Linked DNA regions of Homo sapiens: region 2 is linked to region 1. The links come from fine-mapping of genetic effects on gene expression. Tissue or cell type: whole blood. Region 1 holds a variant in brackets; the other region holds the start of a gene. All regions are shown on one strand. Distances are from middle to middle.

Region 1 (7,956 bases):
ATTTCTGGAACACAGGGTAGGCAAATCTTTGATTTGTAATGCCAAACTGTTATTCAAAGTGGCTGTACTAGTTTACCTTCCTAGCAGTAGTGTATGAAAGTTCCCATTTGTCCAGGTGCTCACCAACACTTGATATTGTCAGACTTTTAGCTTTTACGGTGAGGGAATAATGTTATTTCATAGTGGTTTTAATTTGTATTTCCCTGATTAGTAATGGAGTCAAGCATCAGTTTATACATTTGTTAGCCATTTGGTTTTTCCTTTATGGAAAGTGCCGTTCAAATATTTTGTCTGTTTTTCTAATGGGTCATCTTTTTGTTATTGATTTGTATTAGTTCCTTATACATTCTGGATACTAGCCCTTTGTAAGTTGCATGTATTTTAAATATCTTCTCCCACTCCGTGGGCTTTTTACCCTCTTTATCATATATCTTGTGAACAGAAGTTTTTAATGTTAATATAATTATCATTTTACCTTTCACATTTAGATCTATAACCCATCTGGAATTTAATTTTTATGTATACTGTGTGATAGGGATCCTTTTTTTTTTTTTTTTCTGAGACGGAGTCTCAACCTGTTGCCCAGGCTGGAGTGCAATGGCGTGATCTCAGCTCACTGCAACCTTCACCTCCCAGGTTCAAGCGATTCTCCTGCCTCAGCCTCCTGAATAGCCGGGATTACATGCGCCTGCCACCACACCCAGCTAATTTTTGTATTTTTAGTAGAGATGGGGTTTCACCACGTTGGCCAGGCTGGTCTCAAACTCCTGACCTCAGGTGATCTGCCCACCTCGGCCTCCCAAAGTGCTGGAATTACATGCATGAGCCACCACACCTGGCTCATTTTTTTTTTTTTTTCTTTTTAGAGACAGGGTTTCACTCTGTCACCCAGAATGGAGTGCAGTAGCAGTCATAGCTCACTGTAACCTCAAACTTCTGGCTCAAATTAACCTCCTACTTCAGCCTCCCAAAATGCTGGAATTACAGGTGTGAGCCACCATGCCCAGCCAAATTTCATTTTTTATCTACATGCTTATCCAGTTGTCTTGGCACCGTTTATTGAAAAGTCTAGCCTTTCTTAACTAATCTTCAGTGACACTTTTCTCATATATCAAATGTCCATTTTTACATGGGGATCCATTTCTGAGATCTCTATTTCATTGTTTTTCTGTCTATCCCTGTTCAGTGCCACACTGAAATAATATAGCTTTCAAAATCAGTCTTGGATCTGGTAGAACAAGTCTTTCCACCTTGTTCTTCTTCAAGAGCCTCATAGCTGTTTTTGCCCTTTGCATTTTAGAATCAGCTTTTTAAATTACACACCTACATAAACACACACACACAAACACACACACTCACTCATTCACTCAACTGTTAGGATTTTTATTGGGATTGTACTGAATCCATAAATCAATCTGAGAAGAATTAACATTTTTACAATATTGTGTCTCCTAATCCTTCAATGTAGTATCTCTTCTTTTGTTTAAGTCTTTTCTAAGGTCTCTCAGTAAGATTTTTTTTTTTTTTGAACAGAGTCTCGATCTGTCACCAGGCTGGAGTGCAATGGCGCGATCTCGGCTCACCACAACCTCTGCCTCTCGGGTTCAAGCGATTCTCCTGCCTCAGCCTCCCAAGTAGCTGAGATTACAGGTGTGCGCCACCACGCCCAGCTAATTCTGTATTTTTAGTAGAGATGGGGTTTCTCCATGTTGGTCAGGCTGGACTTGAACTCCCAGCCTCAGGTGATCCGCCCACCTCAGCCTCCCAAAGTGTTGGGATTGCAGGTGTGAGCCACCACACCTGGCTTCAGTAAGATTTTATAACAATGTATTTCAGCTCTTTCGGACCTTCAGTTCAACATTTTCCTAAATATTTCATATTTTTGGTGCCATTATCATTGTATTTTTCAAATTTCATTTTGTACTTGTTAGTGGTATATATAGGATTACAACTGGTCCATATATTGATTTTACAAAATTGTTAAATTATTAATTTCATAATTTATCTGTAAATCTTCTGGATTTTCAATGTACACATTAGATCATCTGTAAGTAATGCAATATTTTATAATTCTTACATATTTTGTTGCTTTTTCTTGTTTAACTGCATTTGCTAGATCTTCTGTACAATGTCAAATAGACAGTGATAGTGAATATCCTTGTCTTATTACTGATTTCAGAGAGAAAGCTTACAACATTTTACCATAAATATGATATTTACTATAAATATTTTGTATATACTCTTATCAGATTAAAGAAGTTTCCTCCTGTTCCTAGTTTTCTTTTCTTTTTTTTCTTTTTTTTTTTTTGAGACGGAGTCTGGCTCTGTCCCCCAGGCTGGAGTGCAATGGCGTGATCTTGGTTCATTGCAACCTACACCTCCCGGGTTCAAACGACTCTCCCACCTCAGCCTCCCAAGTAGCTGGGGTTACAGGAACCCACTACCAAGCCTGGCTAATTTTTGTATTTTTGTAGAGATGGGGTTTCACCATGTTGGCCAGGCTGGTCTTGAACCCCTGACGTCAAGTGATGCGCCCACCTCGGCCTCCCAAAGTGCTGGGATTACAGGTGTAAGCCACCACACCTGGCCCTGTTCCTAGTTTTCTTGGAATTTTAATCATGAATGGACATTGAATTTTATCAGATGCATTTTTGTCTTTATTGAAATGATCCCATCATTTTTCTTCTTAAATTGCTAGTGTGGTAAATTACATTAATTTTTCAATGTTAAGCCAGCCTTGAAATCCCAGATAAATCCAGTTTATATTATTATTTTTCTACGGTGATTTGGTTTGCTGATTTGTTTTTCTGTTTTTTCATCTAAGCTCACGAATGAGACTGGCCTGCATTTTCCTTTCTCTTATTGTTCTTGTTAAGTTTTGCTAGTGTTGTGGATGAATTGGAAAGTGTCTCTGAAAAAGTTTGTGTGAAATTAGAGTTACTTATTCTTAAATGCTTAATTGTATAACTGAAGAAACCATCTGGGCTTGGAATTTTCTTTGTGGGAATATTTTGTTTGTTTGTTTTTGAGAAAGAGTCTCACTCTGTCACCCAGGCTGGAGTGCAGTGTCGTGATCTCGGCTCACTGCAACCTCTGTCTCCCAGATTCAAGCAATTTTCATGCCTCAGCCTCCTAAGTAGCTGGGATTACAGGCATGCGCCATCATGCCCAGCTAATTTTTGTATTTTTAGTAGACACGGGCTTCACCATGTTGCCCAGATTGGTCTCGAATTCTTGACCTCAAGTGATCCACCCACCTCAGTCTCCCAAAGTGCTAGGATTACAGGTGTGAGCCACCGTGCTTGGCCAATATTTTGTTCTTGATAGAGTATCCTTTGTTCTTAGAGGATTATTCATGTTTTCTGGTTTTTCTTGTTGTTGTTGTTGTTGTTGTTTTTTGAGACAGAGTCTCGCTCTGTCGCTCAGGGTGGAGTGCAGTGGCACAATCTCTGCTCACTGCAAGCTCTGCTTCCCTGGTTCACACCATTCTCCTGCCTCAGCCTCCTGAGTAGCTGGGACTACAGGTGCCTGCCACCATGCCCGGCTAATTTTTTGTATTTTTAGTAGAGATGGGGTTTCACCGTGTCAGCCAGGATGGACTCGATCTCCTGACCTCGTGATCTGCCCACCTTGGCCTCCCGAAGTGCTGGGATTACAGGCGTGAGCCACCGCGCCAGGCCCATGTTTTCTATTTTTTTCTGGGACAACTTTGGGAAATTGTATTTTTTTAGGATAACACCCATTTCACCTAAAATTTCAAATTTATTGGCATAAAGTCGTTTCTAATATCCTCCTGTCTTTTAAATGCCTGTAACATCTTTAGAACTGTTCCCTTTTCACTCTTAAAACTGATGATATTTGCTCCCTCTCTCTTTTTATCACTCTTGTCAAGCTGGGCACGGTGGCTCACACCTATAATCCCAGCACTTTGGGAGGCTGAGGTGGGTGGATTACCTGAAGTCAGGAGTTCAAGATCAGCCTGGCCAACATGGCAAAACTCTTGTCTTTACTAAAAAATACAAAAATTAAACAGGTGTGGTGGTGTGCACCTGTAGTCCCAGCTACTCAAGAGGCTGAGGCAAGAGAATTGTTTGAATCCAGGCAGTGAAGGTTGCAGTGCGCCAAGATTGCACCACTGCACTCCAGCCTGGGAGACAGAGTGAGACTCCATCTCAAAAACAAAAACAAATAAATAAATTAAATTAAATATCACTCTTGTCAGAGATCTGTGAGTCATTTTAAAGGTCCAATGTCTGTCTTTATTGATCCTCTTAATGTTTTTGTTTCTTATTTTGTCAATTTGTGTGCTTTTTCTCCTCTTTTTCCTGGATTTATTTTGCTGGGCTTTTTTGGAGGGGAAGGGAGCGGCTTGTTGTTGGGTTTGTTTTGGAGTTTTCTTTGTTAGCTTTTTGACATGAATACTTAGCTTTTTGATTTTTTTAGCTTTTTTTCTTTTCTAAAACAAACAAGGTGAAACATATATTTTCTCTAAAAACAAAAGACTTTAGCTTAATTCCACAAGTTTGATATGTATATTTTTATTATCACTAAGTAGAAAAAAAAATCTTATAACTTCCATTAGGATTTCTCCCTTGACTTTTGAGTTACTTGACAGTATGTGCCTTAGGCCGGCATAGTGGCTCACTCCTATAATTCCAACACTTCAGGAGGCTGAGGAGGGAGGACCACTTGAGCCTAAGAGTTCAACACCAGCCCTGGCAACATAGTGAGGCCCTGGCAACATAGTGAGACCCCATCTCTACAAAAAATAAAAATAAAAAATTAGATGGGGCATGGTGGTGCGTACCTGTGGTCCCAGCTACTCAGGGGGCTGAAATGGGAGGATCACTTGAGCCCAGGAGGTAGAGGCTGCAGTGAGCCATGATTGCACCACTGCACTCTAGCCTGGGCAACAGAGCAATACCACATCTCTCAAAAGGAAAACATATGTGCCTTAGCCAGCCAAGCACAGTGACTCACACCTGTAATCCCAACACTTTGGGAGGCCAAGGCAGAAGGATCGCTTGAACCCAGAAATTCAAGACCAGCCTGGGCAATACAGGGAGACGCCATCTCTACAAAAAAAATTTTTTAAATTAGCCAGGCATGATGGTGCACACCTGTAGTCCCAGCTACTCAAGAGGCTGAGGTGGGAGGATCGCTTGAGCCTGGGAAGTGGAGGCTGTAGTGAGCTGTGATTGCTCCACTGCACTCCAACCTGGGTGACAGAGCATGACTCTGTCTCAAATATATATATTTGTGGAAGATTACTTCCTCCAGAGATAATTTGTGTTTGGTTCTGACAGGCATCTGGGGGTACATTCAGTCCAAGACCCCCAAAAACCAAGTTCACAATTTCAGATTCTCTGGAATTCTCAAGAGGATACAAATGCAGGCTAAGTTCTGAGAAAAGACTGGGCTGTGGTTTTCTCAGAATTTTTTTTCCTTTCCTTTCGCTAACCTCTTCCTCACTCAGTACCAAGAGAGTCT[T/C]CCCTGCAGTCCCCTGGGGGTGGAGTAAGAACAGTAAGTTTACTGCTGATTCACCCTAACACTTACAGTGTAGCCTTTGAGATTAGTCTAATATGGTAGGGCAGGTTTCCTTGTACTAGACTCCCAAACTTGGATAGGCCCTTGGCCTTGGCTTCTGGAGCCATCAGTCCAGGAGGCTAGCCAAACCCAAACTTAGTTTGCCTGGATTTGCAAATATCAATCCCCCTTACCTGAGGCAAAATTACTTTAATGTTCTGATATTTCACTTACCTCTCTGGGTCTCTAGAAAGAAAGGGTAGGTCACAGAGTAACTTCACCTGCTAATTTATATTTGGGAAATGTTTGAATGTTTTATAACAAGCATACATTTCTTTAACTTTTAATTACAGTTTCTTTAAAAATATCAAATAGAACTAAAAAGCTGGCCAGGCGCGGTGGCTCACCGCTGTAATCCCAGTACTTTGGGAGGCCGAGGGGGGTGGATCACTGGAGCTCAGGAGTTCGAGACCAGCCTGGCCAACAAGGGTTAAACCCCATCTCTACTAAAAATACAAAAATTAGCTGGGCATCATTGTGGGCACCTGTAATCCCAGGTATTCTGGAGACTGAGGCAGGAGAATCGCTTGAACCCAGGAGGCAGAGGTTGCAGTGAGCCGAGATCACGCCATTGCACTCCAGCCTAGGCAACAAGCTGTCTCAAAAATAAATAAATAAATAAATAAATAAGTAAATAAATAAATAAATAAATAAAAGCCTGATGATAAAAACAGCAATCTCCTGTCTACCCCTCAGTCCCACACCTGCCAGCCTGCACTCCTTTCATTGCTTTCTAGCTTCCAAAGATGTGTTAAAGTTTCTTATCTGCTGCTGCATTCTTTCTATCCTTGTAGGTTTATACAAAGTTTTTCTATTGCTTTACTGTCATTTAGTGAGGCTTCAAAAGACAAAATTAACATGCACAACCTGCCACTTTTAATCAGAAGTCCATGTATGAAATCCAGGCTGGTTTTGGATGTTAACATGGAGCGAATGGGATACATCAAAGAATGGTTGGCTGCTTGTTTTAAAGAGGTCCCACTGGTGACAGGATGGTAGTGGCGATGGCAGTGAGGACAGACTGGTAAAGGGAAAACCCAGAGGCTTGTGGGGAGAAAGGGCTTTTGTAGTTAGGAAGAGACAGAGGTAGGCCCCTCAGCCAGCTCCAGCAGGATAGAGACAACAACATACAGCGCACAGAGAATTCGTGCCTCAGGGTCATAGTCCATGTCAGGAGGACTGCTGGCCAGCTCATCCCAGTTCTGCTCCATGACAGATTTCACCTGGAAGGAAACCCCCCAGATTGTAACAGCTAGGAACAACGATATACCAGAAATGGCAAATATTTGGCCACACTCCTTGCTGCTGAGCTGATAGGCAGACGTAATAATCCATCATGGCACTCTTTCCTGCAGAGCCCGGAGAGCTTCATACTCTCTCAACATAGTGGCAGGCTCTGCTAGTCAGTCTGCATGGGAACTCAAGATCATACCAGCTGCTGTCCTGGGACTAACCAATTTGCAGCCCTCTCTTGCCCACAGATAAAAAACAGAGCCTAAAGAACCCACCACAAATTGTTCTGGCAACTCTCTGTCCAGGGAATTGTCACAAACCAGCTGCATGGATGTGAGCCGGCAGAAAACTATGGAATAAGAAGGGGCTGTACCCTGGGACTTCTGGGTCCCTTGAGAATATGGGCATTCCCTTCCACTATGACCATGGCCCTCAGCCCAGGCTGTCTCACCTGGTCCTTCAACAGAGGAAGGGTCCCCTTCTCCAGGGCCTCAGCCACAAACTGCTGCTCTTCAGACAGCTCTGGGGGCAAAGAAAGAGTGGTAAAAAGGAGAGATATATGGTGGGACAGGGCCTCAGTGGCTGATCACACCCAGAACATGTATCATCAAAAGGTTCCAGAGAGCCCCTGGGAGTGCTAGATGAGACTTACTCCAAACAGGCCTCTGCTGTGACTCCTGCTTCCCTCTTGGCCTGCAGGAGTCACAGACGAGGAACCAGCCCCTCAATGCCTGGCCTGAGGAAGACATGAAGGAGTGCCCCCCATAAACTGTGAAGAGCAACATGCAGCCCCTCCTCCCAAGATGTGACTCCCCACAGGCCTCTCTGCTCACACTTCCTCCACCCCAGCCTACAGCGAGACCCTTCCTCACCTAGCAGGGCATCCAGGAAGTCCAGAATGGCTTTTGCACGCGCTTCTACCAAGACCCCAGCAGCATTAAAAAGGCTGCTTAGGAGAGGCTTGTCTGGGTCCTCCATGTGTAGCTCCCCGGAAATCAGGACCTCAGATACCTAGGGCCAGGAAGTGTGGGAGATGAGCAGCAGTCTCACCATAGCAGATTATCCTCACTGTGCCAACTGCCATCCCCTCTGGCTCCTATCTCTCTCTGCCCCAAGGCTTTCTTAGGGTCCCTTACT
Region 2 (6,795 bases), 25 kb after region 1:
GCCCAGCTCCTCCACCCAGTCACAGACACAAGTAACTCCCAGTGATCTGGAGCCTCCCTCTGCTGGGCAGGGGGATATGGGCTGGAGGTCAGGATGGAGCAGCTGGGAGTATGGCAGGAGAAGAACAAGGGGACTCCCTGGGGGACGGGCTAGGCCTGGCATGAGAATGCACGGTGGAAGTTGGCCACAAGATAGGCACCGAGATGCTGCCCCCCTCCAGGCCACTCATAGCCCCCTGTGCCTGTTGGGAGGAGGCAAGCGATGGGACTAAGCCCTGCTTACCCGACAAAGAGTGCAAGGTAGCAAGTGGTGAGGGAGCAGAGAAGGGCAAAAGTGGAAGACGGTTCGAGAAGCTAACTTGAGAAAGGGGCATTTCTGTATCAGCCTAGGCACCAGGACTCTCGGGTCCTGGGAACTCTCTGGAGCCCTTTGTTCAGCTCTCAGGAGCACATCTTCCAGGCCAACAGCCACCCCACCCTAGAGATGTGGAAAAATCTGCAGATTTGATTCCTGTCATGGTACACAGGGCAGGAACCCAGAAGGGGGAGCAAGGCAGAGAGGTAAGGGCTAGGCCTGGGCTCTGGAGGCAGATGTCGTCAGTACATCACCCTGACACCTGGGCCAGGCCCGACAGGCTCCTCCTATCCCTCAGCCCTGCCAAAGGGCAGCCCACAGGGCAGGGGCAGGGGCAGGGGCAGGCAGCAGACAGGCTCTCACCATGTTGTGAATGAGGTTGGTGAGGGTCCAGACGACAGGGACACTCACAAACGGGATGCTCAGCAGCACGATGTGGAGGAGACCGATGGCCAGCACGTAGGAGAGCCAGATGCCACGGCTGTTCATCACCCGCGTGTTGGGGTTCACCTCGCTGTGCGCTGTGCCCACATTCATCCTGCTGCCCCTCTCTGCTGTTCTGCAAACAAGCAGCACAGGTCAGACAGGTCACACTGCTTTCCCTGCCCCCTCTCACCCTCGGATCCCGCTGGGAGGCAGGCCCTTGTTTCCCTGAGAACTCCAGGCAGTTCCACTCTTTTGATTCTGAAGCATGGAAAGTGGAGAAAGTCCATGTGGACTTAGCTCTACTCATTTCCTGCTGCTGGGCTGGGATAAACAACAGGCTGCCCCATGCATCATCCCATTGGGACAGGGCCCTGGCAGGGCATCGGAGGACAGGTCATCAAGAGGCACGCAGCCCCAGGGCAGAGAAGTCAAGGCCCATCCCCCAGCCTCACCCCCTATGGCACTCCCATGAGGACCCTCTGCCGACAAAGCCCCAGGGAGAGAATTCTCACTCAGCACAACCCCTGCTGGACTGTGTCTCACTGAAGGCCTAATGTGGGACATCTGCTCTTAAGCTCTTCCCATCAGGAGGGAAAGGAAGTGAGGCCTGTGGGTACAGGCAGCAGTGGATGAACTATTTTGAGGTCACTGCATCCACTCACCTCCTCTGATTTTTTCAATTCTGGATCTCCCCAAACCCCAACTTAGGAGGACTGATCAGGTAGAAAGAGGGAAGTGGGGAGGGAGGAAGGGAGGAAGAAAGGAGAAAACAACAGACTAGGGACAACCTTTGCCCAGACCTAGAAGGCACCCCTCCTGGGTGACACAAAACAACCCATCCGGATGTTTTCTCCATTTGGCAGCCACTCAGGCCAACCCTTGTGATGCTACCCACTCCACTGCCAAACCACCAGGGCCCTTTTCCCCACAAGAGAGGCGAGGATAGAGAACGTGGCCAACACCTGTAACTCCCATAGAGAGCTGGAATCCACCTCAACATATGTCTCCTAAGGGCACAGACTCGAACCTGTGGCCTCCCTCCTGCCCCCGTTCTTCTCTGTCCTGCCCATCCTCACCTCAGTCTCCCCTCTCAGCACCTGTTTCCAGGTGTATATTAGCACCATGCCTTCCCCTGCCCAGCACCAACGGTAGGAGTCCTGCAGCAGGAGGAACCAGGAGGTGGCCGCAACCCACAGTGAGCAGAGGGAAGTAGAGAAGGAAGGGGTGGAATGATCTGCCCCTTATCCAGAGTTTGGCTGTCCCCAGATCCCTGAGGGCCCTGTGACCAGGAGAAAGTGGAGACAGATGGCACCTGTGTACTGGCTCACCTCCCTATCTGAGATAGGGTCCTGCTTGCTAAAGACCGTAAGGTCATCACCATGGTAACAGCCCCATCTTTCCTGGGAATGCAGAAAAGAGTCCCAGATGGAGATATTCTAGAAGTACCCAGAAGGCCACCTCCCTCACGCCCCTGCAGCAACCCCGTCAGACCCAGATGCTATCTATCTCTGACTAGGATCCTAGCCAAACCTGCACAGGAGACTGAGTCCTCAGGGGCCAGTTATTTACTTCCAGGATAACAGGAGCAAGTTTCCTCTTCTCAGACAGCTCCAAGCTTAGAGACCTCAGAGAAAATGTGACCCACAACACGCCATCCCAACAAGCAAACACCCGTGCGCCAGCCTGGGGCGCATTCTGATTGAAGAGATGCTCCTGGGACCCATCAGCGCAGCCCACTAGGCTGGATAATTGAGCCTAACAGAAATTCAAGTATCTAGAAAGCCAGAGCTGGCTCAGATTGTTTATCTTCCCAGGGCCTTGGGGCTTCAGTTACTCTAGCAGCCCCTGGGACAGCTGCTACGCAAAAGCCTCCACCTGAGAGGGGAGGGCGGCATGTGGCTGACAAGTGAGGGCTCTGAAGGACTTAACTCTGACTAAGGAGAGGGAAAGAGCTTCCCAAGTCTGACCTGAAACTGCCACCCCATCACCTCTCTGTAACCCGCACCTACAGGGGTGCTGGTATAGAAAGTCCACTAACCCTTCCTAGTATTTGTCCAGGAGTGCCAAAAGCCTTGGGGAATCCCAGATCACAGGACCCCATACGCCTTTCTGGCTTTCACAGGGCAGCCAACAAAACTTGATGAGCCTAGGAAAAGCCTAGACCTAGGTCCTAGCCAACACCCTCAGAAGCTTCTTCCTGAAGCCTAAACACTAGGTGCCCTGAGAGCAGGAAACCACCAGAGACCCCTGAAAAAGAAGAGATCAATAAACTAACAAAAAGACTGGCAATGAGGAAACACTCTTGAGACTTTCGTGTGACTATGGATACATATCACTTCCATTAGTAAAACAACCAACTGGCCCCTACCCTAGATGGGGAGAAACAGAGAGAAGAGGCTGGCAGAGGTCGACTAGGTCTACAGGAGTTGAGCCGAAAACTTCTGCTGCCATAGCTGGCAGGTGGCTGCTTAGTGCTGGGCCCTGATGTGGTTTCATAACCTGCCTCAAACCAGAGCCTGCAGCAACTCTGTTGTGTTAACCACTTTTTTGCTGGTAGCTCTTTCCCCCTCCTTCCCGCCCCACCCTCTTGGCTCCACATACAAATATCCGGGCCCAGCCAGTATGCCAGACACTCAAGCCAAGGCTGAGCACCACCAGGGCAGCCACCAGGTGAGCCCTTCCCATTCCCTCCCCCAGGAAAGAGCAGCCCTCACAACAGCAAACCTCCTGTCTTCTGGAAGAGGAGCACAAAACATCCAGGCCTGGATGGGGACCCCAACGGGGAGTCCGGGGCAGCACGTCACAATGCCATGTCCATTCCGCCCACCCCCCAAGCTGCAGGACCACAGCTGATAACCTCTCAACTTTGGCCCAGCCACCCCGACTGGGGGAGGGCGGTAGGAGCGGAAAGCGAGTGCCCAGGCGAACCCGCACTAAGCACAGGAGAGGAGGAGCGAAGAGGCGGAGTCCTCACTGTTGTTGGGGTTTTCTGAGTGAGACCTCGGGTGCGGGGCCGGGGGGAGGGGTCCCGCTCTGTTCCCCAGCCTGGGTCTTCGCACTCGGAACCCGGTCCGGTCCGGGACCCCACAGCCATCTCCACGCGTTCACCCAGCCCTGGAGGCAGCCAAACGTTTATCCCCGAAGCCGAGCCGCTCCCCGCCTCCCACCCCTAGCCGAGGCGCTCCTCCCGACGTTCCACCCCCGGCCTCCCGCTCGCACTTTATTCCTTGGCCACCTCCCCAGCCGATGCACCCCCTCGGCTGATGCACTCCCTCCACCCCCCACTCCCTCTGCCCCCGTCTCTCCAGCCCGGGGCGCCTCCCCAGCAGCCCCCACCTTCTCTCCCGCCCCTCCCGTAGCCCTGGGGCCTCTTGGTTCCTTCCGGGCTCACCGTGTGGGGCCGAAGATCAACGGCCCGGGAACGGTTCCCGGGAGCGGGGGCCGCTGCTGCTCCAGCAGCTGTAACAACCCGCGGCTGCAGCCTCCCCGCTGGCAGCTCCGGCCGAATCAGCGCTCCGCGCCGGTCCCCGTACGTCACCGCCCCGCGCCGGCACGCCCGACGCCTTCTGGGAGTTGTAGTTTCTTCCGCTGGCTCCGGGCCGGCCCTCCCGACGCCTCCTGGGAGTTGTAGTTTTTCCTGGGCTCCGTTCCCGGCCTCTTCGGGGACGCACGGTTGGAAGTTGTACCGTGACGTGATGGTCAGATCGGATGATAGAATTTTGGTGCGTAACAATTCCAACTTTTGCTTCTGTGCCCTTCAAGTGTATTTTATCCGTGCCCCAGTTTTGCAGATGAGGAGACTCGGACTTGTAAGTAACTTTCTGTAGGTCTTTGCTGGGTCCTAGACTGGATCGAAACCCAAATATTCTGACCCCAACTGCAGGATTTTTCCACTGCACCTGGCTGCCTCCGCCCTGGCCCCAGATTGGCTCCTCCAGAAACAGACTAGCCCGGCCCTTTGCCCTGCTGGGCCCTCCTGGGAGAGCGCTTTTCACAACATTGGCTGGGATGAGGGTCTGGAGGGCCCGGAACGGAGCCTGCCTTCTCCTTCTCAGTCACGCTTGGCCCAGGCTGCCCCGGACCGGGCCACATCCTTGGCCGCCCCGCACCTGACGTGAGAAGAGGCTACGTATCATAGATTCCTCCATCAGTAGTAAGGAGCCTGAGTTTCTGTCTCAGGTCAGCTTGTGTGGCTTTGAATGAGAGGCTCTGGTCTGCAGTTTTCACATCTGCATCGTCTAAAGGCAAGGGCACAGACTTTACTGCCTGGTAGACATGGGGTAGGCCCTCCTTTATTGGCAGTGTGACCCTGGGCAAATTACTTGTCTTAATCTCCAATTCCACACCTGTGAAACCCCACCTCCAAGGTTGTGGGAACCCAAAAGAATGTATGTAAAGCACCTGTTGCATTGTAGGAATCTACTTAATATTACTGTAGGAGGTTGAACTAAATGGCTCTTGAGGTCTCCTCGGTTACTCCCATTCTCCATGTCACCAAGAGGTCTTGTCTGGGTAGTTTCAACTCCTTACCCAGCTTCTTTCTAAGTCCACTCTATGCAGGGCAGGGCTGGAATAGCAAGGTCAGATGATGTCATGGCATGCCAACCTGACTCTGAATGGCAGTTCATGGCACCCTGAACTGAAAGTGAGGGAACAGGAAGGAAAAGGCTAGCCCAGGGAAACTGCGGAGCACTTTACTCGGACTACACCTACCTTTCCTTCCCCAGGGGGCTGCCAGGAAACAGTTGTCACACAGCTGGAGTGGGACCCCCAGAGGCACTTAGTGGTCACCAGGCAGGTGGGTATTTGAACCACCCAGAGCAGAACAGGCAGCTTCTTCAATATTTCCAGGGCCAATGGCCCCAAAAGGGCTCATTCCAAGATCGAAATAATCATCTGAGTCTGAAATAGCTCTGCCTATGTCCTGTGGAAGTTTCTCCTGGTTTGTGGAGGTGCCTTTCCTTATAGTCATCTTTCTGCAGACATAAGCAAACCCAGTGTTGTTCTTTTCACAGAAACCTCCCCAGCATTAAGGCAAGAAAGGTGTCTCTGTTTTTTCCGAAGTGTGCCTGCTTGACTCCTTTGATTTTTCTCTGGGATTCTTCATCCTCCATCAAGTTGATCGATCCCTCTGGATCTTGGTCAGTTTCCTGACATCTCTATGAAGTTCAGTGACCCAGACTGAGTCCACGTCTCAAATAAGGTTCTGACTAATGCAGAGTCTAACAGAAAGATTACTGAACATGTCATGCACTATTAATAACTCCTGTTATCGAGGATTTTTTTTTCACAATAGGAATGAACAGAGTTCTGACTCACTCTAGGTTTGTGGTAAATTGCAGATCACTTTCTGCTTTATTTAGCGGGAGTCCCTGTTGTCATCTTTCTCCTTCTCTCTTGGCCCTCATAATTATCATATCTTCCCCAAACGTTCTTCAGCTGTGAATAGCCCTAAGCACTATTCAGAGTGAGTGACAGCTCTCTTATTTCGTGCTGGGGGACATACAAACCCTTGGACAAACACTTGTCACTGTGTGCCAAGAAGCTGAAAAATTCTTCTTGCCTCAGAGCCATAATTACACTTTTGGTAGCATATTCTAAGGAAGTCATCCCATGTACAGGAAAAGCTGCAATGTGTCAGGATGTTCATTCCAGCAATATTTATAGTAGTGAAAAACTGAAAGCAACCAAATGCCCAAGAAAAAAATTACAGTATATCCACTGGATGGAATAGTATGAAGCCATTTAGGACAGATTGTGAAAACCCTGTGGCAGTATGGGGAATGTTTGCTAAGTTATATGAAAAGATGAGGACACAAAATAGCATAACATACATTCCCCAGGGATATAGTCAGCAAAGTCTAGAATGAAGAAAATTAGGACAAACACCCAATTCCCTTAACAAATAAAACTGGGGCCAGGTATGGTGACTCACGCCTGTAATCCCAGCACTTTGAGAGGCCAAGGCTTGTGTCCAGGAGTTCGAGACCAACCTGGACAACATGGTAAAACCCC

The links. PIP is the estimated chance that this variant, and not a neighbour inherited with it, causes the effect.
Region 2: ORMDL3 starts here. The variant in region 1 is fine-mapped to the expression of ORMDL3 in whole blood (INTERVAL, PIP 0.97).

What each region holds. Positions count from the first base shown.
Region 1 is chr17:39,898,156-39,906,111 of GRCh38, forward strand. GSDMB (gasdermin B) reads right to left here. Exons shown (of 11, transcript NM_001165958.2): 8 at 7,956; 9 at 7,692-7,830; 10 at 7,271-7,341; 11 at 6,440-6,809. The coding sequence ends at 6,657. Among named protein-coding and RNA genes, the nearest start is that of GSDMB, 17 kb to the right of the region's middle. The variant T/C (reference allele first, on the strand shown) is at 5,491.
Region 2 is chr17:39,923,313-39,930,107 of GRCh38, forward strand. It overlaps ORMDL3 (ORMDL sphingolipid biosynthesis regulator 3), which reads right to left and starts at 4,289. Exons shown (of 4, transcript NM_139280.4): 1 at 4,172-4,289; 2 at 718-913. The coding sequence starts at 891. LRRC3C (leucine rich repeat containing 3C) reads left to right here and starts at 4,420. Exons shown (of 4, transcript NM_001195545.2): 1 at 4,420-4,502. It overlaps LOC124903999 (a long non-coding RNA gene), which reads left to right and starts at 3,408. Exons shown (of 2, transcript XR_007065750.1): 1 at 3,408-3,450; 2 at 3,616-3,690. RefSeq lists enhancers at 19-805, 806-1,591, 3,543-4,153, 4,154-4,765.